Regions from separate parts of the Homo sapiens genome. Here all the other regions are linked to region 1. Evidence: fine-mapped expression QTL. A gene starts in region 1. Each other region holds a variant in brackets. All regions are shown on one strand. Distances are between the middles of the regions. Region 1 holds the start of NMT1 (N-myristoyltransferase 1). Region 2 overlaps DCAKD (dephospho-CoA kinase domain containing). Region 3 overlaps NMT1 (N-myristoyltransferase 1).

What was found. PIP is the estimated chance that this variant, and not a neighbour inherited with it, causes the effect.
Region 2: its variant is the best candidate, but not a certain one, in a credible set for the expression of NMT1 in naive CD8 T cells (Schmiedel 2018, PIP 0.77).
Region 3: its variant is the best candidate, but not a certain one, in a credible set for the expression of NMT1 in adrenal gland (GTEx, PIP 0.59).

Annotation. Positions count from the first base shown.
Region 1 is chr17:45,054,413-45,064,198 of GRCh38, forward strand. NMT1 (N-myristoyltransferase 1) reads left to right here and starts at 6,905. Exons shown (of 12, transcript NM_021079.5): 1 at 6,905-7,048. The coding sequence starts at 6,918. It also overlaps a transcript of DCAKD not described here. RefSeq lists enhancers at 5,685-6,676, 6,536-6,715, 6,677-7,668, 6,816-7,175, 7,029-7,323 and 1 more.
Region 2 is chr17:45,032,850-45,042,605 of GRCh38, forward strand. DCAKD (dephospho-CoA kinase domain containing) reads right to left here. Exons shown (of 5, transcript NM_001288655.2): 2 at 1,925-2,150; 3 at 1,338-1,541. The coding sequence starts at 2,036. Among named protein-coding and RNA genes, the nearest start is that of DCAKD, 14 kb to the right of the region's middle. RefSeq lists enhancers at 2,695-3,195, 3,196-3,696, 7,206-7,840, 7,841-8,475, 8,476-9,110. The variant CG/C (reference allele first, on the strand shown) is at 2,605.
Region 3 is chr17:45,085,404-45,095,189 of GRCh38, forward strand. NMT1 (N-myristoyltransferase 1) reads left to right here. Exons shown (of 12, transcript NM_021079.5): 3 at 1,105-1,249; 4 at 8,282-8,400. Among named protein-coding and RNA genes, the nearest start is that of MIR6784, 24 kb to the right of the region's middle. RefSeq lists an enhancer at 5,321-5,822. The variant C/T (reference allele first, on the strand shown) is at 4,386.

The sequences.
Region 1 (9,786 bases):
AATTTTTACATTTTTAGTAGAGATGGGGTTTCACCATGCTGGCCATGCTGGTCTCGAACTCCCAACCTCAGGCGATCTGCCTGCCTCAGCCTCCCAAAGTGCTGGGATTACAGGTGTGAGCCACCACACCTGGCTGACAGTTGTTATTTTTTCAAGTCCAGTCTTGGCAGTTAGAAAGTTCTTTCTTAGGCAGTATCTCTCCTAGTTTTAAACCGTGGGGCCATACAGAACAAATCTAATTCTATTTTATAGAGCCAGATTTAATGGCTCAATTCCCTTCCTTGATCAAACAATGTATAGCTAACCTAATCCTGTGGTTCTCACCCTTTTCCCTACTCCTGACACATCCAAGGGATACCCAGACTCCCACCAGTAATCATGGCTGGCCAAGACAGGGATAGGAACAGGCCTGGCCTGTCCCCCCAAATTATCTGGATCTTCCTGGGACACAGTGTTAGGAAACCGTCCAGATGACCCTACTTTTCTCAGATACTGCCTTACAGTATTATAACTATTCATGTACAAGTGAGAGCCTTGTCTTCCAAGGAGGTATCCTTGTGGTCCGATTTGCCAAAAGCAGCTGCACCTCTGCCCCAGGAAGATCCCATAGGAAAGGGTGAAGGGCTGCTACAGGGCCTTCAACCCAGGCACCTCCTCCATAATGAAACTTGGGCTTTGGAGTTTCCATGTGATGCCATCAAGGGCTTTTTCAGCTCAAATATATGTCTTTCATGATTCAGGATGGCAATAAGAAACTTTGAGCTGGCTGTAGCTACTTACACAATCTCATTTTATCCTGAGAGTGGCCTGCATCTCAGTCACCTCTGTGTCCTTAGCATTTAGCATGATGCCTGGAATACAGTTCTGCTTCTCATTTTGTTTGATGAACAACCCTGAGTCCATTAGAGATGACTCCTTTGGCTCCTGGTTTTAAATTTATTTTCTGTACGTTTATTTATTTATTTATTTATTTATTTATTTTTGAGACAGGGTCTCACTCTGTTACCCAGGTTAGTGCAGTGGCACGATCTTGGCTCACTGTGACCTCTGCCTCCCAGGCTCAAGTGATCCTCCCATCTCAGCCTCCCACTGAATAGCTGGAACCACAGGCACACACTCCTCACTTTCTAAGCTCCAGTCCTAAGTCATATCATTCTCATTGCCATACCTCAAAAGCACCCAAGTCTCAGGCACCTGGACTTTCTACCTAGAAGGTCCACCCCAGTTTGTTTACTGTCCTGATGAACATTCAGCTAAGCCACCATGTCCCCCCAGGATCTCCTGCCTCTGGACAGCCTGTGCTCCCCACTTTCTTAGGCACTGTGCTAGAACTGTTCTACCCCTGACTCTCCAGTTCCTGCCATAGAGGCTGACAAGTCATCAGTGTTCCCGAGGTTGGAATAAATGAATCACAATCTATCTCATGGCTTCGTAGGTCCACCAGAAGAAAGGTTATATGTGGCCGGGCACAGTGGCTCACACCTGTACTCCCAGCACTTTGGGAGGCCAAGGCAGGGGATCACCTGAGGTCAGGAGTTTGAGACTAGCCTGGCCAACATGGTGAAACCCCTTCTCTACTAAAAATACAAAAAATTAGCCAGGCATGGTGGCTCGCACCTGTAATCCCAGCTACTCAGGAGGCTGAGGCAGGAGAATCGCTTGAACTCAGGAGGCAGAGGTTGCAGTGAGGAGAGATTGCACCATTGCACTCCAGCCTAGGCAAAAAGAGCAAAGCTCCGTCTCAAAAAAAAAAAAAAAAGAAGGTTATCTCTGACATGCTGGAAGTACAGCAAAGGCCTTGATCTGTGATGGACATCATGAAGAAAACTTTTCTTTGGTTATCATACCAGTAATGCTGACTTCCTGGGAAGGGAAATACTAATTAAGTGGGTATTAATTCTGTCCTAGACACTTTTAGGGCTCTCTATGTAAGTCTTATTTTACAGATAATGACATCAAAGCTCAGAGGTTAAGTGACTTGCCTAAGGTCATTCATTAAGTCAGAGGCAGAGCCAGGATTTAGAACCCAGGGAGTCACACTCTGCCTGCACTCTTTTTTATATATATTTTTTTTTTCCCAAGACAGAGTCTTGCTCTGTCGCCCAGGTTGGAGTGCAATGGTGCGATCTCGGCTCACTGCAACCTCCACTTCCCGGGTTCAAGCAATTCTCCCTGCCTCAGCCTCCCGAGTAGCTGGGATTACAGGCGTCCACCACTGTGCCCAGCTAAATTTTGTATTTTTAGTAGAGACGGGGTTTCACCACGTTGGCCAGGCTGGTCTCAAACTCCTGACCTCAGGTGATCCGCCTGCCTTGGCCTCCCAAAGTGCTGGGATTATAGGCATGAGCCACCGTGCCTGGCCCTTTTTCCTTTGAGACAGAGCCTCGCTCTGTCACCCAGGCTGGAGTGCGGTGGCGTGATCTCCGCTCACTGCAAGCTCCGCCTCCCTGGTTTACACCGTTCTCCTGCCTCAGCCTACCAAGTAGCTGGGACTACAGACGCCCGCCACCACGTCTGGCTAATTTTTTGTATTTTCAGTAGAGACAGGGTTTCACCATGTTAGCCAGGATGGTCTCGATCCCCTGACCTCATGATCTGCCCGCCTTGGCCTCCCAAAGTACTGGGATTACAGGCGTGAGCCACTGCGCCTGGCCCTTTTTTCCTATTTATATAGAGACGGGGCCTTGCCATGTTGTCCGGGCTGGAGTGCAGTGGCATGATCCTGGGTTCCAGCGATCCTCCCACCTCAGCCTCCCAAGTAGCTAGAACCATAGGTGCATGCCACAATGCCACGCTAATTTTTGTATTTTTTTTAGAGACAGGGTCCTCTATGTTGCCCAGGCAGGTCTCACACTCCTGGGCTCAAGTGATCCACCCATCTCAGCCTCCCAAAGTGTTGGGATTACAGGCATGAGCCACCTCACCCAGCTATATTTCTGCATAACTCCATAAGGCAGAACCGGGCCAGCTTTTCACAAACCAAAATTGTTTCAAAGTGGAAAGCTCTCGGCTGGGCGCAGTGGCTCATGCCTGTAATCCCAGCACTTTGGGAGGCCGAGGCAGGCGGATTGCCTGAGCTCAGGAGTTGGAGACCAGCCTGGGCAACATGGTGAAACCCCGTCTCTACTAAAATACAAAAAATTAGCTGGGCATGGCGGTGTGTGCCTGTAATCCCAGCTACTCGGGAGGTTGAGGCAGGAGAACTGCTGGAATCCAGGAGGCAGAGGTTGCAGTGAGCCGAGATAGTGCCACTGCACTCCAGCCTGGGCAACAGAGTGCGACTCCATCTCAAAAAAAAAAAAAAAACAGTAATTCAGGCCAGGTGCAGTGTCTCACACCTGTAATCTCAGCACTTTGGGAGAGCGAGGTGGGCGGATCACCTGAGGTCAGGAGTTCGAGACCAGCCTGGCCAACGTGGTGAAACCCTGTCTCTACTAAAAGTACAAAAATTAGCTGGGCGTGGTGGCAGGCACCTGTAATCCCAGCTACTTGGGAGGCTGAGGCAGGAGAATCGCTTAAACCTGGAAGGCAGAGGTTGCAATGAGTCGAGATTGTGCCACTGCACTCCAACTTGGGTGACAGTGAGATTCCGTCTCAAAAAAAAAAAAAAAAAAAAAAAAGCCTGGGCGTGGTGGCTCACACCTGTAATTCCAGCACTTTGGGAGGCCAAGGCAGGTGGATTACCTGAGGTCAGGAGTTTAAGACCAGCCTGGCCAACGTGGTGAAACCCCATCTCTACTGTAAGTACAAAAATTAGCCAGGCATGGGGGTGCGCACCTGTAGTCCCAGCTACCGGGGAGGCTGAGGTGGCAGGATCACTTGAATCCAGGAGGCAGAGGTTGCAGCAAGCCGAGATTGCGCCATTGCACTCCAGCGTAGGCGACAGAGCGAGACAGTCTCAAAAATAATAATAAATAAAAATAACACACAAAATATCTTTTTATCTTTTATTTTATTATTGTAATCCCAAAGTGCTGGGATTACAGGCATGAGCCACCACGCCCAGCCTACTTTTTATTTTTTTTGAGACAGAGTCCCACTTTGTCACCCAGGCTGGAGTGCAGTGGCAGAATCTTGGCTTACTGCAACCTCCGCCTCCCAGGTTCAAAAGATTCTCGCGTCTCAGCCTCCCAAGTAGCTGGGATTATAGGCGCCCACCACTAAGCCCAGCTAATTTTTTTGTATTTTCAGTAGAGACGGGGTTTCGCCACGTTGGCCAGGCTGGTCTCGAACTCCTGACCTCAGGTGATCCACCCACCTCGGCTTCCCAAAGTGCTGGGATTACTGGCATAAGCCCCAGCGCCTGGCCTGGCTTTATTATTCTTCTTCTTACCTCTGACCCCCCCCTTCCCTGCAGCTGCAAATAGGGCAATCGCGTTGAACAGCAGTCTTAGACCCCGGAGAGTTGAGTGTGGTGACAGCTCTCAGACTGAGTGGGCATCTTTGACTGCCTTCCAAAGTCAAATATAAATGACTGAGGATTATCTGCTGCTTTGGATCATAATTACTTATGCTTATGCCATTGATATAAAAACAGAGTTGAGTTGGCCGGGCGCGGTGGCTCACGCCTGTAATCCCAGCACTTTGGGAGGCCGAGGCGGGCAGATCACGAGGTCAGGAGATCGAGCCCACCCTGGCTAACACGGTGAAACCCCGTCTCTACTAAAAATACAAAAAATTAGCCGGGTGAGGTGGCGGGCACCTGTAGTCCCAGCTACTTGGGAGGCTGAGGTAGGAGAATGGCGTGAACCCGGGAGGCAGAGCTTGCAGTGAGCCAAAATCGCGCCACTGCAATCCAGCCTGGGCGACAGAGCAAGAGAGCGAGACTCCGTCTCAGAAAAAAAAAAGAAAGAAAGAGTTGACTATATTTAGTTCTGTGTTTTATTTGTGTTTTCTTTCCCTGAGTCAGATGGGAACTGTTTCTTCCCGCCCTGCCATTCTTCCCATGTTGAGATCTTTCCCAAAGGCAAAGATCATTTCCCTTTTTGGCCATGGAGCACTCTGATGGTAAGAATTAGTCCTCTCATCACCCACCACACTCAACCCGAATAGGAAATTTCCAAGAATGGGAACCATGTCTTTGGGCACTTAGGCGAGATTACTCAATCAAAAGAGTGAGACTCAGGGACTGAAACATTCAATCAAGGTTAAAAACAGATTAAAATGTGGCAGTTACCTTTTTTCCCCTGATATAGAATACGCACTGGAGTCACAGTTACCTTTTAGTAACTGATTTCCTTGAGTGAATAGTGTATCAGAAAATGGGACTTTTATGGTGGCAAAGAATTCAGAGGGCCTGGGGCACACAGATCTGGATTTGTATACCGATTTGCCACTTAACCAGCTATGTGACTGTGCAATTTACCAACCTCTCAGGGCCACATTTTTTCATCTGTCAAAAAGGTCAATATGGCCAGGTACGGTGGCTCACACCTCTAATCCCAGCACTTTGGGAGGCCGAAATGGGCAGATCACGAGGTCAGGAGTTCGAGACCAGCCTGACCAACATGGTGAAACCCCGTCTCTACTAAAAATACAAAAATTAGCCAGGTGTGGTGGCGTGCGCCTTTAATCCCAGCTACTCAGGAGGCCGAGGCAAGAGAATCGCTTGAACCCAGGAGGCGAAGGTTGCAGTGAGCCGAGATCGCACCACTGCACTCCAGCCTGGGAGTCAGAGAGAGACTCCGTCTCAAAACAAAACAAAACAAAACAAAGGTTGAATAATAATAATAGGACCTATATTGTAGACTTGTTGAGAGGATTAAATGAGATAATGTACGAAATGCCTTACTACAGAGTCTGGCACTTATTAAAGAAAGAGTTGATGTGGGCTGGGTGCCGTGGCTCACGTCTGTAATCCCAGCACTTTGCGGGGTTGGGGTAGGAAGATCCTTAGAGGCCAGGAGTTCGAGACCAGCCTGGGCAACAAGGCGAGACCCTCGTCTCTACAAAAAATATATAAATTATCCGGGTGTGGTGGCTCATGCCTATAGTCCTAGGTACTTGGGAGGCTGAGGTGGGAGGATACCTTGATTGCAGTGAGCTGTGATCTTGAGCCATTGCGCTCCAGCCTGGGCGACAGAAGGCGGCCGTATTTAAAAAAGAAAAAAGAAAGAAAGAAAGAAAAGAAAAGAAAAAAAGGGTCGTTGTGGAAAATTCTTGTGGGGAATTAAAGGGACCACGTGTGCGCGAAAGAGCTTGGCGAAGATAAGTACCTGGAGGCCAAGATGAGGCGGCGAGCCCTGCCTCCCTAGCAGTGTGGTCTCCTGGCTTAGGGTCAGTGCTTCGCACAAAAAAATCCACTGCCTCTCATGAGACCTTGAACTGCCAATGACCGCAGGTTGCCCAGACTCCCGAGTGAGGAAGGCGGCCAGGAGTCAACTAGGCTTCTTGCGGAAAAGCCCACTCTAAGAAGGCCTGGGGCATTCCGGCTCCAGGCAGGTAGCACCCGCGGGCCTCAGGCCCTTTCACTTACCCGGGAAACGTAACGGTCCTTAACGGCAGCCAATAACGGCTCCCAGCGGCCCAGGCACTGGCAAGGGCAGGCTGAAATCAAACCTCGGATTTTGGAACCTCCACGCCTGAAACCCTAAACCAGCATCGAACTACAACTCCCATCATGCCAGGCGGCCGCCCGGTTCCCAAGGGTCGGTCCCACCAACCTTGCGCCCCTTCTTTCCTCAAAGCGTGGCCGAATGCCTAGGCTTCCGGGTATCAGTGGCCCCGCCTCTTAATCCGACCGGAGCCGTCCCTCGTGATTCCTGGGTATTGTAGTCAGTTTCCTGGGAAAGAGTCGCTCCTAGTGGCAGCTCGCTTCGCCAGAAAAACTACAAAACCCAGAATGCAGCGCAAATTCCCCTTGTCCAATAGGAACCCCCCATGTAGTGGGGCGCGGAGCCCTGCTCTCGCAACTCAAGATGGCGGACGAGAGTGAGACAGCAGTGAAGCCGCCGGCACCTCCGCTGCCGCAGATGATGGAAGGGAACGGGAACGGCCATGAGCACTGCAGCGATTGCGAGAATGAGGAGGACAACAGCTACAACCGGGGGTAACGAAATCCTCGGAGTCCAATTCCCGTCCAGCCTCCCACAACCTGGGTCTCTGGGGTGCGGGGAAGTCACCGGGAGCTTAGTCTAGCCCCACCCTCATGTTCTTATTGGCTAAGTCACTAGGATTCTGCCTGGCGATTGGTTATTGCCTTTGTCATTTACCAAGGGTGGGTGCTCTGGATATTAAGGGCCGGAGACGTTCAGTACTTTTATTATATAAAAGTTCTATGCAGTGTTCCACTCGTGTGCTTCAGGCCATTCCTGGGAAAAGAGCATGTTGGACGATGGTTTTCGATGGTACAACACAGGACAGTCTAGTAACAGTACAGTTCAAAGGGAACGTTACTTATAGACGTGTTGTTTGAACAACGTGACTAGCAATAAACGAATCATAAAACATTTCGCAGCAGTTCACCCTCAGTGAGGAAACTCATCAGACTATACAAACTGTATGTATAATTATATTGTAAAATATCACTACCAGAGAATCCCAAAATATAAACTCACCTTATAAACCTATGTAATTAACGGTATGGTAATGCTTTGATTTACATAGTTTCCATTGCTCCAAATAATCCATAAGTATCCTGAACGATATATTAATATAATTAAGTCTTCGAACATCTTTGCCTTGTTACCTTTGCAGAGCAGCCCCAGGCTTCAAGAAATGAGCGATGTTGTTTCTTGGAGAGTATTTGGAATCCTCGGGCTCCATACTGCCTATCCTGTACTTTAGGGTCTTGCCATTAGTTACTATTTGTTCCTAGGGATGAAGAAACACACCAGGCATTTGAATGTTGAATTCTTTTCCCAAATTAGTTTTTACTTCTGTAAGCCACAGCTTATTCATCTTTCTTCACATGGTTAGTGCCTGGCACTGGCACTCACGCTGTCTCTCCCCATCTTCCTGTCTATATTTGTAGATATATTTTTAAACTGAAAGTCGTGAGAGATTTTTGGGTGTATAACTTGCTGAGTCTGAGGTAGTCTGATTTTCGTAGCCAGCTTGTTATTCGCAGTATTGGTGGCAGTGCAGATATAAAGGTATAAAGACCAAGGACTGCGTAGAAGAGATGGTCCCACAAGATTATAGTACATATTTTTATTGTATCCTTTCTATGTTTAGGTATGCTTAGATACACAAATACTTACCATTGTATTATAGTTGCCTGCAGTACTCAGTAACATGCAGCAGCCTATTGCTCCTAGGCTACAAACCTGTATAGCATGTTACTGTAATGTACACCATATAGCCTAGGCATTTAGTAGGCTATACCATCTAGATTTGTGTAAGTACACCCTATAATGTTGGCAAGGCAAAAATCACCTAACCATGCATTTCCCAGCACATATGCCTGACGTTCAGTGAAGCATGACTGTATTTAAGTGGTTTATAATCTGCTTGTGGTAAATCTTAGGTTAAAAGATCTAGCTTTTATGTTCTTCAGCCGGCATTAAAAATCACAGGAAGGGCCGGGCATGGTGGCTCATGCCTGTAATCCCAGTACTTTGGGAGGCAGATCACGAGGTCAGGAGATCGAGACCATCCTGGCTAACACTGTGAAATCCCATCTCTACTAAAAATACAAAAAATTTAGCCGGGCGTGGTGGCGGGCGCCTGTAGTCCCAACTACTCGGGAGGCTAAGGCAGGAGAATGGCGTGAACCCAGGAGGCAGAGCTTGCAGTGAGCTGAGATCACGCCACTGCACTCCAGCCTGGGCGACAGAGCGAGACTCCGACTCAAAAAAAAAAAAAAAAAAAAAAAATCACAGGAAGAAAGTAGAGGAATAGGAAGCTTGCCAAATTTAGTTTTTATAAGACTGTTCTGTTGCTGTAACTCACAACAGATCTAATGTAATAAAAGTCTTCTTTTGAAGTTTGATATTCCTAAAAATGGAAGAGCTGAGAAAGAGGAAGTAGGAACAGGAAGAAGGGAAAGTGAAGCTCTCCTGAGTAGAGATCTGAATCACAGATGAGAGTTGGTGAATGTGAAAGTCATTCCAGAAGTGAAAGTGTGGCATTTTCTTTGCTCTTTTTGTAGTTGCTTTTATTTTTATCTTCTTAACTGTTGTCCTGACCAGTGTCCTTAGGTTTGTGCCCTATAATCTGTGAATCACTTTTCAAAACTGTGTGCCAGAAAGTTATTTTATTGGCCTGGCGTGGTAGCTCACACCTGTAATCCCAGCACTTTGGGAGGCCGAGGCAGGTGGATCACTTGAGGTCAGCAGTTCGAGAACAGCATGGCCAACATGGTGAAACCCCGTCTCCACTAAAAATACAAAATTTAGCTGGGCATGGTGGCGTACGCCTATAGTCCCAGCTACTCCGGAGACTGAGGCAGGAGAATCACTTGAACCTGGGAGGTGGAGGCTGCAGTGAGTTGAGATTGCACCACTGCACTCCAGCCTGGGCAATAGAGCAAAGCCCTGTCTCAGAAAAAAAAGTGGCACACAGTGGCTCATGCCTGTAATCCCATCACTCTGGGAGGCCGAGGCGGGTGGATCACGAGGTCAAGAGATTGAGACCATCCTGGCTAACATGGTGAAACCCTGTCTCTATTAAAAATAGAAAAATTAGCTGGGCATGGTGGTGCATACCTGTAGTCCCAGCTACTCGGGAGGCTGAGGCAGGAGAATCACTCGAACCCGGGAGGCGGAGGTTGCAGTGAGCTGAGATTGCGCCACTGCACACCAGCTTGGCAACGGAGCGAGACTCCATCTCAAAAAAATAAATAAA
Region 2 (9,756 bases), 22 kb before region 1:
TGACAGGCAACCAGGCCTTCAACTCGGAGGCCCAGGCTGGAGGCCACATGTGCCAAAGGCTGGCATGCAAATCTCCAGCAGCCCTAGGCCAGCCTCTTGCCAGATCCCAAGCCACCGCCCTCTGTTCTCCCTCCCACTTCTGGTGACTGACCCCAACCTGTAAAGTAAGCATCAGGCCACCCCTGTGCAATGCTGTCCTGAAGAACATGGCTTAGGCCAGGTGTGGTGGCTCATGCCTGTAATCCCAGCACTTTGGGAGGACAAGGTGGGAGGATTGCTTGAGGCCAGGAGTTTGAGACCACTTTGGCCAGCATAGTGAGACCCCATCTCTAAAAATAAAATAAAATAAAATAAAATAAAAAAGAACAGGGCTTGAACCATGGCATATAGCTTGGAAGAAGGTTCTTGCCAACTGGCCCCAGGCCTCTGATTTCAAATACTCCCCTTCCCCTACCCACCCTGGCCATCTTGGTCCCTTCCCAATTTCCAGTCTACAAACTTGCTTTCCCAAATGGCTCAGCCAGAACCAAACCTGCCCCTGACTGCAGTTTACATGTGTGATTAACTGACAGTCACTGACCTGGACCCTCAGTCTTCCTAACATGCTCACGTTGGATTTTTTCTTTTTTTTGAGACGGAGTCTTGCTCTGTTGCCCAGACAGTCTGAGTATAGGGTGCAATCTCGGTTCACTGCAACCTCCACCTCCCAGGTTAAAGCGATTCTCCCGTCTCAGCCTCCCGAGTAGCTGGGATTACAGGTGCACACCACCATGCCCAGCTAATTTTTGTATTTTTAGTAGGGACGGGGTTTCACCATGTTGGCCAGGCTGGTCTCAAACTCCTGACCTCAAGTGATCTGCCTGCCTCGGCCTCCCAAAGTGCTGGGATTACAGGCATGAGCCACTGTGCCCAGCCTCATGTTGGATTATTATCCCCACTGCACAAATGAAAAAATGAGCTGAGGGCGAGATCACTCAATGAAGTCACACAGCTAGAAAGTCAGGGTTGGGATTTGAACTCAGATCTATGGCTCCATTATTCACCAGCTCTTATTACTCCCATCCCTACTAGAAAAACCAACTTACTTCCTGGGCTCATGGCTCGAAAGCCTCATGTGTCTCTTCTCATTAAACTGTCAGCCTCCTTAAGAGCTGAGGGAACGTGCTTCTTTCCTCTGGGGCTGGTACGGGGCTCTGTGTGGAGGGGATGCCAGTAAGCAGTATGAACTCATCAGCTGGGATAACCAGCTCCCCTACCCTGGCCAAACTTTCTGCAGAGGAGAAGGGCCCTGGCCCTGGAAGGAGGCCCCGCCCCCCGCCCCAGGCCCTGGCACTTACCCCGGAGGAAGTACTTGAACGTCTCCTTCATCATCTCCTTGCGAATCTCGGGGTGGGTGATGGCGTTGAGCAGCTGCCGCCGGTCAGGCTGGTTAAAGATCAGGTCCCCCAGGACCTTGCGATTTATGTCGCCGTTCTCCAGCAAGACCTCAGTGCCGAAGACCTCTACGATGCGCCGGTGGGCAGGGTATCCTGGCTGCACGACTGTGGCAGGAGGAAGAAGCTGGGTCACTCCCTGAAGCCTCAGGGCCAGTCAGAGGACCTCAGTGACCAGGGGCAAAATGATGGGGGAACTCGGGTGCTTCTTTCAGGTGGAGCAAAAGCAAAATGAGGGTAGAGAAAGCAGTGAAGGAAAAGAGCAGAGTGTACAGGATCCCTTGTGCTGGTAATGGGGTACAGCTGGGGGGTTTCTAAAAACAGAAAATAGAAGAGCAGAGAAGGCAAGCACGGGGCAGAGACAGAAGTCAGACCAGGGTCAACAGGAGCCTTCCCCTCCTCTGAGACTTATAAAAAAAGGAGGCATGGCAGAAGGCCGGAAGCGTGGGGAGCTGCTGTGCACGGCCCCCCAACCTGCCCCTCCAACTCACCGTGCCGGGCCATCACGTCCACGTCAATCACCGCACAGCCCAGCTGCTGGAACACCTGGATCACTGAGCTCTTGCCTGAGGCAATGCCCCCTGTCAGGCCCACCAGAAACATCTTCCAGGAAAGAGAGCTGTCCGCGAGACTACGGAGCCAGGAGCTACAGAATCACTGGAGAGCAGGGCAAGTGTGGCCGATGGGGGCGGTCCACCAGAGGAGTGCCAGAAGGACCTGCTTGGGAGAGGCCAGCGGGACTGATCAGTTTGGGCCAAAATAATTGGGAGAGAGGAGGCAAAGGAAGTAAAGGGAGACAGCTTGGCTGGGGAGGGACATGTCCTGAGCTTGGGGTGCTCTGGGGCCATCTGGAGAGGAGAAACCCTCCAGGAAAGGCCTCCAGTATTTTAAAAACACTCGCAAAGAAGGCAAATGTGGCCAGGAGTGGTGGCTCACACCTGTAATCCCAGCACTTTGGGAGGCCAAGGTGGGTGGATCACCTGAGGTCAGGAGTTTGAGACCAGCCTGGCCAACATGGTGGAACCCCATCTCTACTAAAAATACAAAAATTAGCTGGGCGTGGTGGCGTGCACCTAGAATTCCAGTTACTCAGAAGGCTGTGGCAGGAGGATCGCTTGAACCTGGGAGGTGGAGGTTGCGGTAAGCTGAGATCCCACCACTGCACTGCAGC[CG/C]TGGGTGACAGAACCAGATTCCTTCTAAAAAAAAAAAAAAAAAAAAAAGCAAACGAACACTATAAATTCAGCAATCAAAAGCTGAACAGGCAGGGCAAGGTCAGGTGCTGTTAGGCAGCATGCTTCCTGGACGAGGCAGGATCCCCTTGGAGGCCAACTTCCTAGAGGAAGGAGACACCTGTCTCTCTGTGGTAGACCCACAGCACTCTTCAGATGCCCACTGGTCCCCCTGGCCTTTACTTTCTAGTCTAGGAGACTGAGGCTCAAAGGAAAGAAATGGCCTGCCTGCAGCCATCCACGGAAGATGCAAAAGAGACCACAAATAGAGTCCAGGTGCCTGGGCCCTCTTTTGCCCCAAGGCCTCCTCCCCACAGAAGGTCCCATGGATCACTTCCCCTTGAACGCCAGCACTAGGACTGCCTGGGTAGCTGATATAGATGGAGACGCACAATCCTCTTGGCCCAGATGGGGAACTGAGCCGCAAGCAGTGGCTCGGCAGCCACTAAGGCCGAGGTTTAGAAAAGTACCACTCTTGCCAAGAAGGAATGTGAGGGAAAGGCCAGGAGGCTGGGCGATGCTGGTGGTGTGACTTTGAGCTGGCGTCGTGGTTTGTGGCGTCCTCAGACCAAGCAGCGGCAGCACGGCACAAAGGTTGGGGCATGGCTTCTTCACACCCAGCTCCTCCACTCACATGTGCTGCAACCCCGGGCAAGCCGCTTGCCTCCCTGAACCTCAGTTTTCTCATCCATAAAATGAGGTTTAGGATCATAAGACTGCCTTGGCTGGGCGTAGTGGCTCACGCCTGTAATCCCAGCACTTTGGGAGGCCGAGGCAGGCAGATCATGAGGTGAGGAGATCGAGACCATCCTGGCTAACATGGTAAAACCCCGTCTCTACTAAAAATACAAAAAATTAGCCAGGCCTGGTGGCGGGCGCCTGCAGTCCCAGCTACTCGGGAGGCTGAGGCAGGAGAATCGCTTGAACCCAGGAGGCGGAGGTTGCAGTGAGCGGAGATTGCGCCCCTGCACCCCAGCCTGGGTGACAGAGCGAGACTCCGTCTCAGAGAAAAAAAAAAAGAAAAAGAAAATGCATCTGCAGTCCATGGTATGTTGCTTGATAAATGGTAAATATCCCAAAAATGGAAGTGAGGATAGTGATACAGGGTGAAAAGTAGGAGTTACAGTTCCACTGCAAGGCATAGAAAGGAAAAAAAAAAAGACTTTCATGAAATCATGTCCCTATTCCTCCAACCTCAGACTATCACACCATAAACTTTTAAGGAGTCATGGTGCATTTTCTGGAGTAAATGAGGTTACCATGTCTTGGACTTTGTTCCCAGGCTGGAAGCAATTAAATCAAAGGCCAGGTCTCTCCCACCCTTCCTTCAGCCTCAAATCACTTCTCCAGGACTGTAAAATCTGCCATAGGACTTTTTTTGTTGCCGTTAAGCAGCAGATTTACTGTCCTAATTACACTTTGCTTGAGCTTACACTGAAATGAGTTTGCCTCCCGTGAGGACACACCAAATGACAGGGGAGGCAGCTGCTTGGATGTGGCTGAGTTGGTGCCTGGCTTGGGGCAGCAGGGGACCAACCTAGAAATTGAAATCTGCCACTGCTCATTCTCACCCCGGAAAGCCAGAGGTGGAGAGAGGAAACTATCCACCACGGAGTCATCATCCAAATGGAGAGACCTAGCTACATTAATCAACTATTTAACAATCATTTCTAGGCCACGCACGGTGTTCACGCCTGTAATCCCAGTGCTTTGGGAGGTTGAGGCAGGAGGATTGCTTGAGACCAGGAGTTCGAGGCCAGCCTGGGCAATACAGCAAGGCTCTCTCTCTATTAAAAAAAATAATAATTTCTCCTCCATCTCTCTGAGGCTGGTGATCTCCCTCTAGGTCACAAAAAGGACAGGGTTCAGTTGTAAAAACAAACAAACAAAACAAACAAACAAAATGTCAGCCACTCAGCTGAAGCTTTGAAATAGAAAATCTAGAAAGAATTTTTTTTTTTTTAGATGGAATTTCACTCTTGTCGTTGCCCAGGCTGGAGTGCAATGGCGCATCTCAGCTCACTGCAACCTCCGCCTCTCAGGTTCAAGCGATTCTCCTGCCTCAGACTCCCAAGTAGTTGGGATTACATGCAGCCGTCACCATGCCCAGCTAATTTTTGTATTTTTAGTAGACATGGGGTTTTGCCAGGTTGGCCATGGCTGGTCTCGAACTCCTGACCTCAGGTGATCCACCCACCTCAGCCTCCCAAAGTACTGGGATTACAGGCGTAAACCACCACGCCAAGCTTCAAGAGCTTTTTTTTTTTTTTTTTGAGACAGAGTCTCACTCTGTTGCCCAGGCTGGAGTGCAGTGGTGTGATCTCGGCTCACTGCAAGCTCTGCCTCCCGGGTTCACGCCATTCTCCTGCCTCAAACTCCCGAATAGCTGGGATTACAGGTGCCCACCACCATGCCTGGCTAATTTTTTTGTATTTTTAGTAGAGATGGGGTTTCACCATGTTGGTCAGGCTGGTCTCAAACTCCTGACTTCAGGTGATCCACCCACCTCGGCCTCCCAAAGTGCTGGGATTACAGGCGTGAGCCACCATGCCTGGCCTTTTTTTCTTTTCTTTTCTTTTCTTGAGACAAGAGTCTCTCTCTGTCCCCCAGGGTGGCGTGCAGCGGTGCAATCTGGGCCCACTGCAATCTCTGCCTCCTGGGTTCAAGAGATTGTCCTGCCTCAGCCTCCCGAGTAGCTAGGATTACAGGTATGCACCACCATGCCTGGCTGATTTTTTTGTATTTTTAGTAGAGACGAGGTTTCACCATGTTGGCCAGGCTGGCTCAAACTCCTGACCTCAGGTGATCTGCCCACCCAGGCAGTTCTGATGTGTAACAGCGCTCAGGATAAATTCTAACTCTTCTTTTACAGCAGTGGAGACTGAGGACCAGAGAAGGGAGGGGACTTCCCACCAGCAGCTATTATCAAAGGCTGGATGCAGTTCAGGGCTCCTAACCCCTAGTCTAGACCCCTGCCTTTAATGTACTCAAGGAATGAAAAATTAATTTACCTTTAGACTAATGAGACAAAGTAAGGAAGATGAATCTGTTTGTAGGCAAATCGATTCAGAGCCAAAGAGAAATAATTTCTTGATTATCATACTGTTTTCTTCCTGCAGAATGGGGGCTGAGGGGGTGTGTGGACAATGGCCAGAGCACAGATGGAAATTCCAGCCTCCCGGGTTACCTAATGAGTATCCTCCCTTCTCAGTGCCTTGACCGAGTGTCTGTGGAAACAGACCAACAGCTGCTTGGCCTCCATCAGGAAGGCCAAGCGGACAAAGGAGCACACGCCCAGGGAGGCTCCGGGTCCCCAACTTAAAAGGGCCTTGACAAATAACAGCTGTTCCTGTCCAACAAGCCCCTCTGTAGCTCATTCCTTCACTGACCATCCACTGAGCATCTCTGTGCTCTGCAGGAACGGTGCCAGGGACCTCTTGGGTAACCAGAGGAAAACACAAGTCTTGCCCCTTGGGAAAACTGGAGAGCTAGATAGTACCAGATGAAAACATCTGAGAACAGAGCGCTGACAGGTAAGCAGGAATGGTCAGGTGGTGCTGGCCCTGGGCCTGCTGTATGAGTGCCTTCCCACTCACTTGGCTGCGCACAGATCTACTGGGATCTGCCAGGGAGGAAGTTGCAGCCCACGGTGCTCCCAAAGCTCAGCAAGGAGGAAATAGAGGCTTAGGTACCCAGCGGCCTCCAAGTCACACCTAGACCTGCCAGCAGCTCCCTGTCAGGCCCACATGAACAAACGACCACCTTTGATCACCTGTGTTCATGACCCTCTTTCTGCTCTGGTCAAGTCATCATTCTCCAGAATCCGATCTGGCTTCCCACATTCCACTGCCGCTTACACAGAGGCAGTACATTCCTCACAGCAAGTGCTAAACCTGGCTATAATCTGAATTTACTGCGAAACTTACAAAAGGTACAGACACCCAGGCTCCATCTACCCCAGCCCACTGAATCTGAATCAGCTAGGCCCAGAACCATGGCTAAAATGAAAGGCTGTGGACTGGAAGTGGAAAGTCCTGGGTCCTGGTCTCTGAATTCTGTGATAAAACTACCCATGTGACTGCAGGAAGTCTTCTCTCCAGCCTGGCCCAGGGTGGTAAGGACTCCATACAAGAAACAGCTGAGCCCCGGGTGCCTTCCCTCCTCTGAGCCTCAGTCCCCACACTTGTGAGTGAGAGGGGCTGGAGTTTCAGTGCCAAGAACGGTGCAGCTCCCCAGGGAGGCTGAGAGTCACACTGGTGATTTCTTCCTCCCCTTCAGTGGTTCAGAGCTCTCCTGGGAGTGGTGAATAAATGCTCCCCTGGGGCCAGGCGCAGTGGCTGTAAGGCCAAGGTGGGCGGATCACTTGAGGCCAGGAGTTCGAGACCAGCCTGGCCAACATGGCGAAACCCCATCTCTACTAAAAATACAAAAATTAGCTGGGCGTGGTGGTGCATGCCTGTAATCCCACCTATTCGGAAGGCTGAGGCAGGAGAATTGCTTGAATCTGGGAAGCGGAGGTTGCAGTGAGCAGAGATCATGCCACTCTGGACTCCAGCTTGGGCAACAAAGTGAGACTCCATCTCAAAAAAAAAAAGGCCGGGTGTGGTGGCTCATGCCTGTAATCCCAGCACTTTGGGAGGCCAAGGCGGGAGGATCACCTGAGGTCAGGAGTTCGAGACCAGCCTGACCAACATGGAGAAACGCCATTTCTACTAAAAATACAAAATTAGCCAGGCATGGTGGCGCATGCCTGTAATCCCAGCTACTCGGGAGACTGAGGCAGGAGAATTGCTTGAACCCGGGAGGCGGAGGTTGCGGTGAGCCTAGATTGTGCCATTGCACTCCAGCCTGGGCAACAAGAGCAAGACTCCATCTCAAAAAAAAAAAAAAAAAAAAGCTCCCCTGGCAAACCAAGGGATGACATTACTGTTGGTGGCCTGGGAATCTTCCTCCTCAACACCAAAAGCTGTTCACAGAACTGGCTTGGCTGGAGGCGGAAGGACAACACCAAGTCCACAGTAACAGAGAAGGAGCCAATGCACTGTGCAGGAGAAATGGAAGCTGGATTCTGGGACCAATCCCAGGTATGGGATTCATCAGCCAAGGAGGAGCCAGAAAGAAAAGCAAGCCTCTGATCCCAGGGAAGCCACACCCCATCCTTTCTTTCCCTCATTCTCCATGTCAGTGAAAGGCAGCAGGGTGCAAAGAAAAGGGCAAGGAGTTTGGGTTAGAGCTGGTGCCTGCGCTCCAACTCTGCAGTGAAGCTCTAAGGCCTGTGAAATGACGATCAGATTCTATTGTGCTCCACAAGTGGTGGGCTCTTTTGCATCGGGTGTCTCCAAATTGCCTCTCAGTTTTTACTTCTTGGGCCCAGTAGCCCCAAGAAGAATAAATACATTCAGAGAATGGTCTGTCTTAGAATCTCCTCTGGCAGTGTTTCTCTTAGGGAAAAATTAATGGGCTAAATAAAGCCCTACTGCTCTGGGAGGTCTGGCCAAGTTCTAATCCCACTAGGCCCACTCTGTTAGCCTAAGCCACCAGCACCTGTGCCCTGACCACTCCAGTAGCCTCATGACCTGACCCCCTCGTCCCGGCCTGGCTTCTCCCCAAGGTAGCCAGGGTCATGGCTTAAAGGAGTCATCTGATCATGTCACTCCCATCTAAAACCTTCACTGCCTTCTCCCGCCTCCTCCTGGCCCTTCACAGAGGTCTCCAGGCCCTGTGTGACTCCCTCAGTCACTCCCTGTCCACGATGCCTGGTGCCTGTCACACTGATCTTCCTTCTGTCCCTGAACATGCGGGCTCTTTTTTTTTTTTTGAGACGGAGTCTGGCTCTGTCGCCCAGGCTGGAGTGCAGTGGTGCGATCTCGGCTCACTGCAACTCCGCCTCCCGGGTTCACGCCATTCTGCTGCCTCAGCCTCCCAAGCAGCTGAGGCTACAGGCGCCTGCCATCATGCCCGGCTAATTTTTTGTATTTTTAGTAGAGACGGGGTTTCACCATGTTAGCCAGGATGGTCTCAATCTCCTGACCTCGTGATCTGCCTGCCTCAGCCTCCCAAAGTGCTGGGATTACAGGCGTGAGCCACTGTGCCCAGCCACATGCGGGCTCTTTTCGACCCCAAAGCCTCTGTGCTGGTGTTCTCTCTGCCAGACTCACCTCAGGGCTAACTACTCTTCAGTCACCCTGTACTGACTGTGTCAACCAATCAGACACCAGGCACGAGAAGGGGTGGTGGGGGGAGCAGGGGAGGGGTAAAACAATAAACTCACAGTACCAGTAAGTGTGGTGGTGGTAAGTGGGTAAGGGTATCAAGAGCAATGGGGGGCCATGCATGGTGGCTCACGCCTGCAATCGCAGCACTTTGGGAGGCCAAGGTGGGAGGATCACTTGAGCCCAGGAGTTAGAGGCCAGCCTGGGCAACAAAGCGAGATCCTGTCTCTTAAAAAAAAAAAAATAGCTGGGCATGATGGCATATGTCTGTAGTCTCAGCTACTTGAGAGGCTGAGATGGGAGGACTGCTTGAGCCCAGGAGTTGGAGGCTGCAGTGAGCCATGACTGTACCACTGCACTCCAGCCTGGGTGCAGAATAAGACCTGACTTAAAAAAAAAAGAGTGACAGGCACATCATTGTCTGACCCAGGACCTGAAGCAGCATGGGAGCAAGTCACATCCCCTTGGAGGAGCCTCATCCAATCCCCCAACCCAAATGATGCCCCTGCCATCTCTCACCACTCCCTTTACTTTCCCTCCTTTGGACTCGTCATGCTTTGGACTTTCATTTCTGTTCATGTGACTTTTTTTTTCTTCTTTGAGACAGGGTCTCACTCTGTCACCTTCTTCCCTTGGGACAGCTCAGGACTTATGTTGGAGGCAAATTCTGTTCCTTCTCATCCCCCATTCAACAGACCCGCCCCTGCGTGTGCCAGGCCAGGACCTGGCTCCCTCGGCTTGCAGCCCCTGTCCTCCTCCCCTTGCCGCCTCTCAGGATTTCACACTGGGGCCGCCTGACTAGCCAGACAGAACTGCTTTCCTAAGGGGGTGTATCTGTTTTGCACCAATGATCAATATAATCATTCATGAAAACGAGTCATT
Region 3 (9,786 bases), 31 kb after region 1:
AGGTCTCTAAGACAGTCTTTAAAGAGCAGTTTGTACGATAATATTATATGATCCAATTTTAGTTTTTGAAAAGTGTGTGTGCATTTGGAACTTGTATGCAAAAAAGTCTGGAATTATATTTGCCTCTTCTCACCTTCCCAAGTGAAGACTATTGATCACAAAGATTATATTTGGGGGATGGGATTGTGGGTGTTTACTTTCTATGTGTCTTACACATTTCTGCATTGTTTGAAATTTACATTGAGCATGTATTACTTTTGCCATCAAACAACATAAGACTAATAAGGGGAGAAACCCTGCGGGCAGCACCCACCCATCATATAGCTCATTGTCAACCACTTTTTCTCTGGTTGTAATGACCTCTGGGATTAGGACAGAGGAACCAAACCCCTTCTTTGAATTGTACCCTTTAACTCTTTTTTTTTTTTTCTTTTTTGAGATGGATTCTTGCTCTGTCACCCAGGCTGGAGTGCAGTGGTGTGATCTTAGCTTACTGCAACATCTGCCTCCCAGGTTCAAGCAATTCTCGTGTCTCAGCCTCCTGAGTAGCTGGGATTACAGGGACACGCCGCCATGCCTGGCTAATTTTTTGTATTTTAGTAGAGACAGGGTTTCACCATGTTGCCCAGGCTGGTCTTGAACTCCTGAGCTCAGGCAATCCACCTCCCTCGGCCTCCCAAAGTGCTGGGATTACAGGCATGAGCCACTGCGCCCAGCACTCTTTTTTTTTTTTTTTTTGAGACGGAGTCTAGCTTTGTCGCCCAGGCTGGAGTGCAATGGCGCCATCTCGGTTCACTGCATCCTCTGCCTCCCAGGTTCAAGTGATTCTCCTGCCTCAGCCTCCCAAAATAGCTAGGATTACAGGTGCCCGCCACCACGCCTGGCTAATTTTTGTATTTTTAGTAGAGACAGGGTTTCACCATGTTGGTCAGGTGGGTCTCGAACTCCTAACCTCAAGTGATCTGCCCGCCTTGGCCTCCCAAAATGTTGGGATTACAGGCATGAGCCACTGCACCCAGCTCCCCTTAACTCTTGAACTCATAATTAATCAAAAGTCTTACTAACATAATGGGCCTTTTTTCTCCCCAACTTTGTCTTGTCCAGATGAACTCTTTGCCAGCAGAGAGGATCCAGGAAATACAGAAGGCCATTGAGCTGTTCTCAGTGGGTCAGGGACCTGCCAAAACCATGGAGGAGGCTAGCAAGCGAAGCTACCAGTTCTGGGATACGCAGCCCGTCCCCAAGCTGGGTATGTACATGCTTGCTTTCTTTGCCAGGTCAGGGGCGAGGGATCTGCCTCAGCTGTGCCTTCATGAGGGTTTCATGCTGAATTACTGTAGGGAGGGCAGTAGAGTCCTGGAGTTCCTTGGTAGTTGTTTTCAGAGGGTGGTTTTTAAAAATGCAGCATAAAGACTATCATTCAGAGACCTTACCATTTTATAGCAGCACACCTTGAGAACAAATAATGATTCTTGCCAACAGCACTGGCTCACACCTATAATCTCAGCACTTTGGGAGGCCGAGGTGGGAGGATTGTTTGAGCCCAAAAGTTCGAGACCAGCCTGGGCAACATAGACCTTGTTTCCACAAAAAGTAAAAAAAAAAAAAATAGCCAGGCATAGTGACATGCACCTGTAGTCCCAGCTACTCAGGAGGCTGAGGTGGGAAGATCACTTGAACCTGGGAGGTCAAGGCGGCAGTGAGCTGAGATCACGCCACCGCACTCCAGCCTATGTGACAGGAGTGAGACCCCCAACTCAAAAAACGAACAAACCAAAAAACCCAAAAAAAAAACAAAACAAAACTATTGGCACATGAAGAGTGGGAATGTCTGCCCAGAGGTCTTTTTTCCACTTAGGTTTATAGAGACTTTGTCTTGTTTGTCTGGGCACATGTTTATTCCTGGAATGGGCAAAGTCCCCAGCCTCTTCCCCTTTGTCTCCTAGCCAATGCATGCTTACTAAATGCAAAGTGGTTTGAGATTTTGCTTAGCAGTGATGGTTCAACAACAGGAATACTATATATAGATTTCATTAGCACCCCTTAAAAAAGCTATAATGAATTGCTAAAGGGGTGGAATAGGCAGAATATCTAAAAGGATTCTGGAAGGGACTGGATCCTGTTAGACGTGCCTGCCAAGACTGAGCCAAGCCAACCTTGATGGCTGACTTCAGGACTCAGCTGACAAAGTTTCTGAAGTGGTTGTAACATGATTCTGGACCCATTGGTGGCCTAGTTCCTGTTTTCTTTGTGACTGGGAAAGTAAGTATGTTGAAAAAAACATATTCCAACACCAAATGTAAATGACTTTCAGCTTGTCCACATTACTGCTCCCCTCCAGAAACACAATGAGACTTCACTAGTATGTTCGGTGCAGAGGAGGAGGGTGGGGCAGGGCCAGACAGGGTAGGGCTAAAGACTGGTGAGGTGAGGAAGGCAGCTGTGCCCAAGGAGATTTGTTTGCTGCAGAGGTTGGGAGCAGCTAATCCATGAGGCCTGCAGACCTGCAGGATGGGCATTGCCTAATTGCTAGTAGAAATGCAGTTTGTCGGGCCCCACCCCAAAGCTGCAGAATCAGAACTGCCAGAGGATTTCTGTCCACTTTGAAAGTTTGAGAAGCTCTGCTCTAGAGCGGATGCAGTTCTTAGAAGCTTGGTCACAATAGAAGCAAGCTGAGGAGGTGCATCCCCACGGGTGAGGGAGAGCAGAGCACTGCCCAGGTGGACAAGAGGGGTGCTGATTCCCCCATCACCGTGTGTGTTTGGCTGCCCTCATCGGCCAGGTCCCAGGCCCACTGGCTAAGCCCTCCAGCAAGGCTTTGGGCCACAGGGTAGGGTCCCAGTGACCAGTTTCTCGCTGAGGAGCAGGAAAGATGCAGAGAGCCACACATCTCACCTCTGAATGAAATCCCTGATGAGGTGTTGTGTGGTGGCTGCCATGTATCTTGGCTCTGTTTTCAGATGGCATTTTGGAGTTTTGGTTTGATTTTATTTTTCCTGAGGAATTTGCAAATGAGTAACCTTGCTACATTCTTCACAGATAGTGGCACTTGGGAAAGAGGCAGATTGAGGCTGGGCGCAGTGGCTCACGCCTGTAATCCCAGCACTTTGGGAGGTCGAGGCAGGCGGATGACCTGAGGTCAGGAGTTCGAGACCAGCCTGGCCAACATGGTAAAACCTCGTCTCTACTAAAAATACAAAAACTAGCTGGGCTGGTGGCATGGGCCTGTGATCCCAGCTACTTGAGAGTCTGAGGTGGGAGAATCACTTGAACCTAGGAGACAGAGGTTGCAGTAAGCTGAGATCGCACCACTGCACTCCAGCCTGGGCAGCAGAGCAAGAATGCATCTCAAAAATGAATTTAAAAAAAAAAAAAAAGAGGCAGCTTGGGATTAATTTGCTTCTGTTCCTCTTCAGCCCAGCATACTTTGTTTTCCTTTCACCTGTAAATGTAGAAAGTGCTTCAGTTTAGTTCTCAGAAAGCTCAAGAGAAAACCACACAGTTGCTCATACGGGCCCTGACACTTTGAGGAAGGAGGAACAAGGTCTGGTTTTATTTCTTCTGGCTTTGCCTTCTGTGCAGTGTGTGGTGTCGGACTCCATGGAAGAGCAGTCACCCTGAGCATCTGACTAGTCTGCCTTTGAGGTCCAGGGTCAGTCAAGCCCCAGTTAGATTCCTGTGTTTGTGTCAGCCTGTAAAAAGTGCCACCTTGGCAGGCGTGTTAGCCTGCATGGCTGAGGCGTCACCCTAGTTCTGAGTTTTCTCAGGGGTGGTGGTACCTACAGCTTCTTGCCCTAATTTTTTTTTCACTTAATTGGAGGACTAATGATTATAAATCTCGTGCATATCAGCTGCACTGTGTTTTTACAGTACTCTCCACCTTCTTGGGAGAGTTTTAATTAGATGGTATTCCACTAAAGAAACCTACAAGTCTCTCTGATTTATTTATTTATTTATGAGACAGAGTCTCACTCTGTCGCCCAGGCTGGAGTGCAGTGGCGTTTTCTCGGCTCACTGCAACCTCTGCCTCCCAGGTTCAAGCAGTTCTCTGCCTCAGCCTCCCGAGTAGTTGGGATTACAGGTGCCCACCACCACGCCCGGCTAATTTTTGTATTTTTAGTAGAGACAGGGTTTCACCATCTTGGCCAGGCTGGTCTTGAACTCCTGACCTCGTGATCCACGTGCCTTGGCCTCCCAAAGTGCTAGGATTACAGGCATGAGCTACCGCACCCGGCCCTCTCTTTTATTTTCTTGAGACAGGATCTCGCTCTGCTGCCCAGGCTGGAGTGCAGTGGTATGATCATGGCTCACTGCAGCCTTGATCTCCTGGGCTCAAGCAATCCTCCCACCTTAGCCTCCTGAGTAGCTGGGACTACAGGTGCCTG[C/T]CACATGCCTGGCTAATTTTTAAATTTTTTGTGGAGACATGGTTTCACTATGTTGACCAGGCTGGTCTCAAACTCCTAGGCTCAAGCTGTCCTCCTGTCTTAGCCTCCCAAAGTGCTGGGATTATAGGCGTGAGCCACTGCACCTGACTGAGACCTGCAATTCTTTAGAAGCTTAAAATTATCCTAGGTTTACCATGGAAAGGCCTTCTTAGGCCGGGTGTAGTGGCTCAATGCCTGTAATCCCAGCACTTTGGGAGGCCAAGGCAGGAGGATTGCTTGAGCCCAGCAGCTCAAGACCAGCCTGGACAACAGGGAAAGACCTCGTCTCTACAAAAAAATTTAAAAATTAGCCAGACATGGTAGCACATGCCTATGGTCCCAGTTTCTCAGGAGACTGAGGTGGGAGGATCGTTTGAGTCCTGGAGGTCGAGGCTGTAGTGAGCCATGATCGTGCCACTGCACTCTAGCCTGGGTGACAAAGCGAGTCCCTGTCTCAAAGATTAAAAAATAAATAAATAAAAATGAAAGGCCTTCTTAGCAGAAGTGTTTTAGTCTGTGTAACAACTGTAAGAGCCGCAGATGAACTTTTGATCCCCCACTCGAGATCATGTCGTTCTTCTTTTTAAAGTCACCCCTTTCCCACTCATGTCAACGGAAGCAGTATCCTTTTCTGTCTTTGGTCAGTGGAATGCAGTGTGGCCACTCTGTTTTAAAAAGTCACTATCAAAGGGAGGATGTGCACTCACCTGGTTTCCATGGGTCCCAGAGAGAAGCTTCCCCTCTCTTTTTCCTCTCCTTGGCCTTTGTTTGGTTTAATGTTTTCCGCATCTCAGACATTCTCATTTCTCCGAAGTCCTTCACAGTTGCACCGCATTGCTTAGTTTTGGGTCTCTGATGTTTGATGTCATGGAGAGAATTTTGAGGGAAGAGTGTGCAGAAAGAAACCCATTGAAAGCTCAGGGTTTTCTTTAAACTTCCAGATTCTTTTAAAGCAAGTTCGAAGTGTCATCCTTAGTCATTTATTGGTTCATGTTGGCCTTGAGAGAATCAGCTGCATTCTTGCTGTGCTCTGCAGAGCAGCCTTCCACCCCTGCTCAGCAGGAGGTACTCAAAGGCCATTGTAAGGGAGAAGGCAGGCTGCTCCCCACAGAGCAGGACAAGCAGAGGCCATGATGCTGGCACCACACCGAGGACAGCACAGGAGCCTTGGGCTGCTTCTTGGCATCGAGGGCACTCCACAGTGGGAGTCTAGTAAAAGTGGCTGCTCCCTTTTCAGTGTTTCCTGTAGCTCTACTTTTTCACACCCACCCTGCCCCACATAGTCCACCTGCAGCCTGGCTGATTCCTAATTATCCTTGAGGTCTTGTCGTTAGATATTTCCTCTGAGAGGTCTTTCCTGACACACACACACACACACACACACACACACACACACACACACACACACACGTCCCATAGCACCCTGTACTTCATTCTTACTGGCCCTCACCATGCCGGGTGGCATGTGCATCCTTGCTCATCTCTTTGGTGTCCATGATGGTGAGGACCTGTGTCTGTTTCATTCGCCAGCCCCTGCCACAGAACTGGCACATTCTAGGATTCAGTGAACACTTGGTGAAGGAGTGAGTGAATGGAAGTGCCTGTTGCGTGTAGGACCTAGTAGCCAGCCTAAATGAGAAGATTTAGCCTTGAGGTTATTTTAGTACAATAGGGAAGACCATCAGTATTCTTGGCCATGGAAATAATTCAGGGGGAAAAAAAGAAGGTTCTGAAGTGTATAGGAAAAGGTATAAATTCAATACAAGTTGGGAAATTAGCACCTAGATAAGACTAGAGGGTCTGGCCCTCAGTTTTGTAGGCTCAAAAATGTTTTTTTAATATACATAGCTGTCAGTTGGAAGCGGATTGACTTAAATTCACAAGAGCTACTTTATGAATAATCAAATGGTGGGTTTTGGCTGGGCGCCGTGGCTCATGCTATAATCCCAGCATTTTGGGAGGCCAAGGCAGGAGGATCACTTGAGTCTAGGAGTTTGAGACCAGCCTGGGCAACAGTGAGACCTCATCTCTATGAAAAATAAAATTAGCCAGGCGTAGTGGCGCATGCCTATAGTCCCAACCACTCGAGAGGCTGAGATGGGAGGATCGTTTGGGCCTAGGAGGTCGAGGCTGTAGTGAACCAAGGTTACGCCACTGCATTCCAGCCTGGGCAACAGAGCAAGACCCCATCTCGCCAGTCATGAGTTTCCTAACTAGGGAAGAAAAATATGACCTCTCTCCCAAGCAAACCTGTTGGGAAGCCTGATTACCAACAGAGCAGGCTGCTTCCCTGTTGTGTGTCCCTGCACTTTCCAGATCCTGACCTGCAGCACGTGGATAATGACTCATTTATTTACTATTTCCCCAGAAGATGGTATGTCTCATGAGGACAGGGACTTGGTCCTTTTTCCTGCTGTACACTAGGGGCTGGCATGGTCACTGAGTCACTGGTGCACGGTTGGTGCTCAGTAATGTGTCTGATGGAAGAGGGTGAGATGATCAGTGCCAGCGGTGGTGTCGTGTGCTGCAGCCTGATGCAGCCCTTTCCACCACACTTGCCCCACAGATTATCATTCTGGGAAGGTCTAGAGCTTCCTGTTACATGTTAGAATGAAATGTTTGGACTTTGGGAGGCCGAGGCGGGTGGATCACTTGAGGCCAGGGGTTTGAAACCAGCCTGGCCAACATGGTGAAACTCCATCTCTACTGAAAAAAAAAAAACAAAACACCAAAATTAGCCAGCGTGGTGGCGGACACCTGTAATTCCAGCCACTCGGGAGTCTGAGGCAGGAGAATTGCTTGAACCAGGGAGGTGAAGGTTGCAGTGAGCCAAGATCGCACCACTGTACTCCAACCTGGGCGACAGAATGAGACTGTCTCAAAAAAAAAAAAAAGAAAAGAAAAGAAAAAAAAAATATTTGGGATCAGGAGTCTGAAAGTCAGTAAAAGCATGAATTGAGTGCCTAGTCTATACAGAGCCCTTTGCTAGGAACACTGTTACTGGGTTGGTCCCTTTTGAAGACTCCATTTTCCAAAATGCACTAAACATTGCATTCTTCCCAGTGTAAACATGAGTGAGCCCATTGTAGAACCGAAATCATCCCAAGGGCCAGAATTCAGTGGTGAATCTCTCAGCATATATGAGTCCGATTGAGCTCTGGATAGGAATGAGGGCTGTGTCTTTGGAGCACTCCCCACATGCTCCCACAGAGGAGGGGCCTATCCTGCTCAGGGAGGGGATGTTGTGTCAGGGTGACTTCCCGGCAGCACTATGTAGACTTGGTGATTCAGCCCAAAGGCACTTGCAGGACTCTAAACACTGAGGGCCTGAGTTGGCAGTAGCAGTTAACTGGCTCACGCTGCTGAAAGCCAAGGCTGGCAGGGCCACGATTGAGCCTGGCGCCTAGAAGCCATCATCTGGTTCAGAAATGGGCCCAGTACATTGTTGTTGCTGTTGACACAAAAGCAGCCTTGTTGTGACTCCTTACAAACCCATCCAGACTGATGGGCCTGGGCCAGGGCCCTGACAGCACTCTTTACACCAACCAGGAGGCAGGAAGCCAAATTACTAAAGATAAATGTTTGTCATTCAGTGACCCAAGGGAGATTTAAATGGATTTCCAAAACACGAACCACCTTGGATCCCAGTGATTGTCCTGAGGTTTTGCCATGAATTGGCCCTCAGTTAGGGGCTAAGGGTAGCTGGAAAGACGGTTTGCAGTTGCCAAGCACAGAATGTTCTTCAGATAGAGGGCTCCTAGGGACAGGAGGAATTTGCTCTGGTTGAGTTTTGAACTGAGCCCTTTACTGCCCCGAGGGGGCAAAGGGTGAGGCTCACAGCTGTGCTCTTCTTTCAGGCGAAGTGGTGAACACCCATGGCCCCGTGGAGCCTGACAAGGACAATATCCGCCAGGAGCCCTACACCCTGCCCCAGGGCTTCACCTGGGATGCTTTGGACCTGGGCGATCGTGGTGTGGTGAGTGGGCCCTCAGAAGGTTACACCTGCGGGTAGGAGCCACTTTCACAGTAAGCCCTGCAGTCTCACCTAGACTACGTTTACTCGAGCCCTAGAGAGCTGAGCCAAGGAGGTCTGAACAGACTCCCGTCTGTAACTTCCTGGGGCATGGCCAAGACTCCACATAAATAGCTCTTAGCTTTTCTGGCAGGTTGGAAGTTAACCTCTGTAGGTCCCCGATGTGGATACCTGTTTTTCATTTATTCTTTTTTGTTCATTCATTTCCTCATTTTCTTTCTAGTCTGTCTCCTGACTGGAGCAGCTGGGGCTGCTAAATGAGGCCCTGTCCTCCCCTTTCCACCCCGGCCACCCAGAGCCCCTTGTTTTGACCTGAGGGATTTATTTCCCTTATAAAGAATGATGAAAATGTCGCCGGGCGTGGTGGCTCACACCTGTAATCCCACCGTTTTGGGAGGCTGAGGCAGGCGGATCATGAGGTCAGGAGTTTGAGACCAGTCTGACCAACATAATAAAACCCCATTTCTACTAAAAATACAAAAAATTAGCCAGGTGTGGTGGTGTACGCCTGTATCCCAGCTACTCAGGAGGCTGAGGCAGGAGAATCTCGTGAACCTGGGAGGGGGATGTTGTAGTGAACTGAGATCTCACCATTGCACTCCAGCCCAGGTGACAGTGCGAGACTCTTTGTCTCAAAAAAAAAAAAAAGTCAACAGAATTTTTTTTTTTTTTGAGATGGAGTCTCGCTCTGTTGCCCAGGCTGGAGTGCAGTGACACCATCTCAGTTCACTGCAGTCTCTGCCTCCTGGGTTCAAGCGATTCTCCTGCCTCAGCCTCCCGAGTAGCTGGGATTACAGGTGAGTGCCACCACGCCCAGCTAATTTTTATATTTTTAGAAAAGATGGTGTTTCACCATGTTGGCCAGGCTGGTTTCGAACTCCTGACCTCAGGTGATCTGCCCATCTTGGCCTCCCAAAGTGCTGGGATTACAGGCAATGAGCCACTAGGCCTGGCTTTTTTTTTTTTTTTTGAGACAGAGTCTGGTTCTGTTGCCCAGGCTGGAGTGCAGTGGCGCGATCTTGGCTTACCCCAACCTCCACCTTCCAGGTTCAAGTGATTCTCCTGCCTCAGCCTCCCAGGTAGCTGAGATTACAACCATCTGTCACCATGCATGGATAATTTTTGTATTTTTAGTAGAGATGGGGTTTCACTGTGTTGGCCAGTCTGGTCTCGAACTCCTGACCTCATGATCCACCCATCTCGGCCTCCCAAAGTGCTGGGATTACAGGCATGAGCCACTGCGCCCAGTCTTTTTTTTTTTTTTGAGATGGAGTCTTGCTCTGTTGCTCAGACTGGAGTGCAATGGCACAATCTTGGCTCACTGCAACG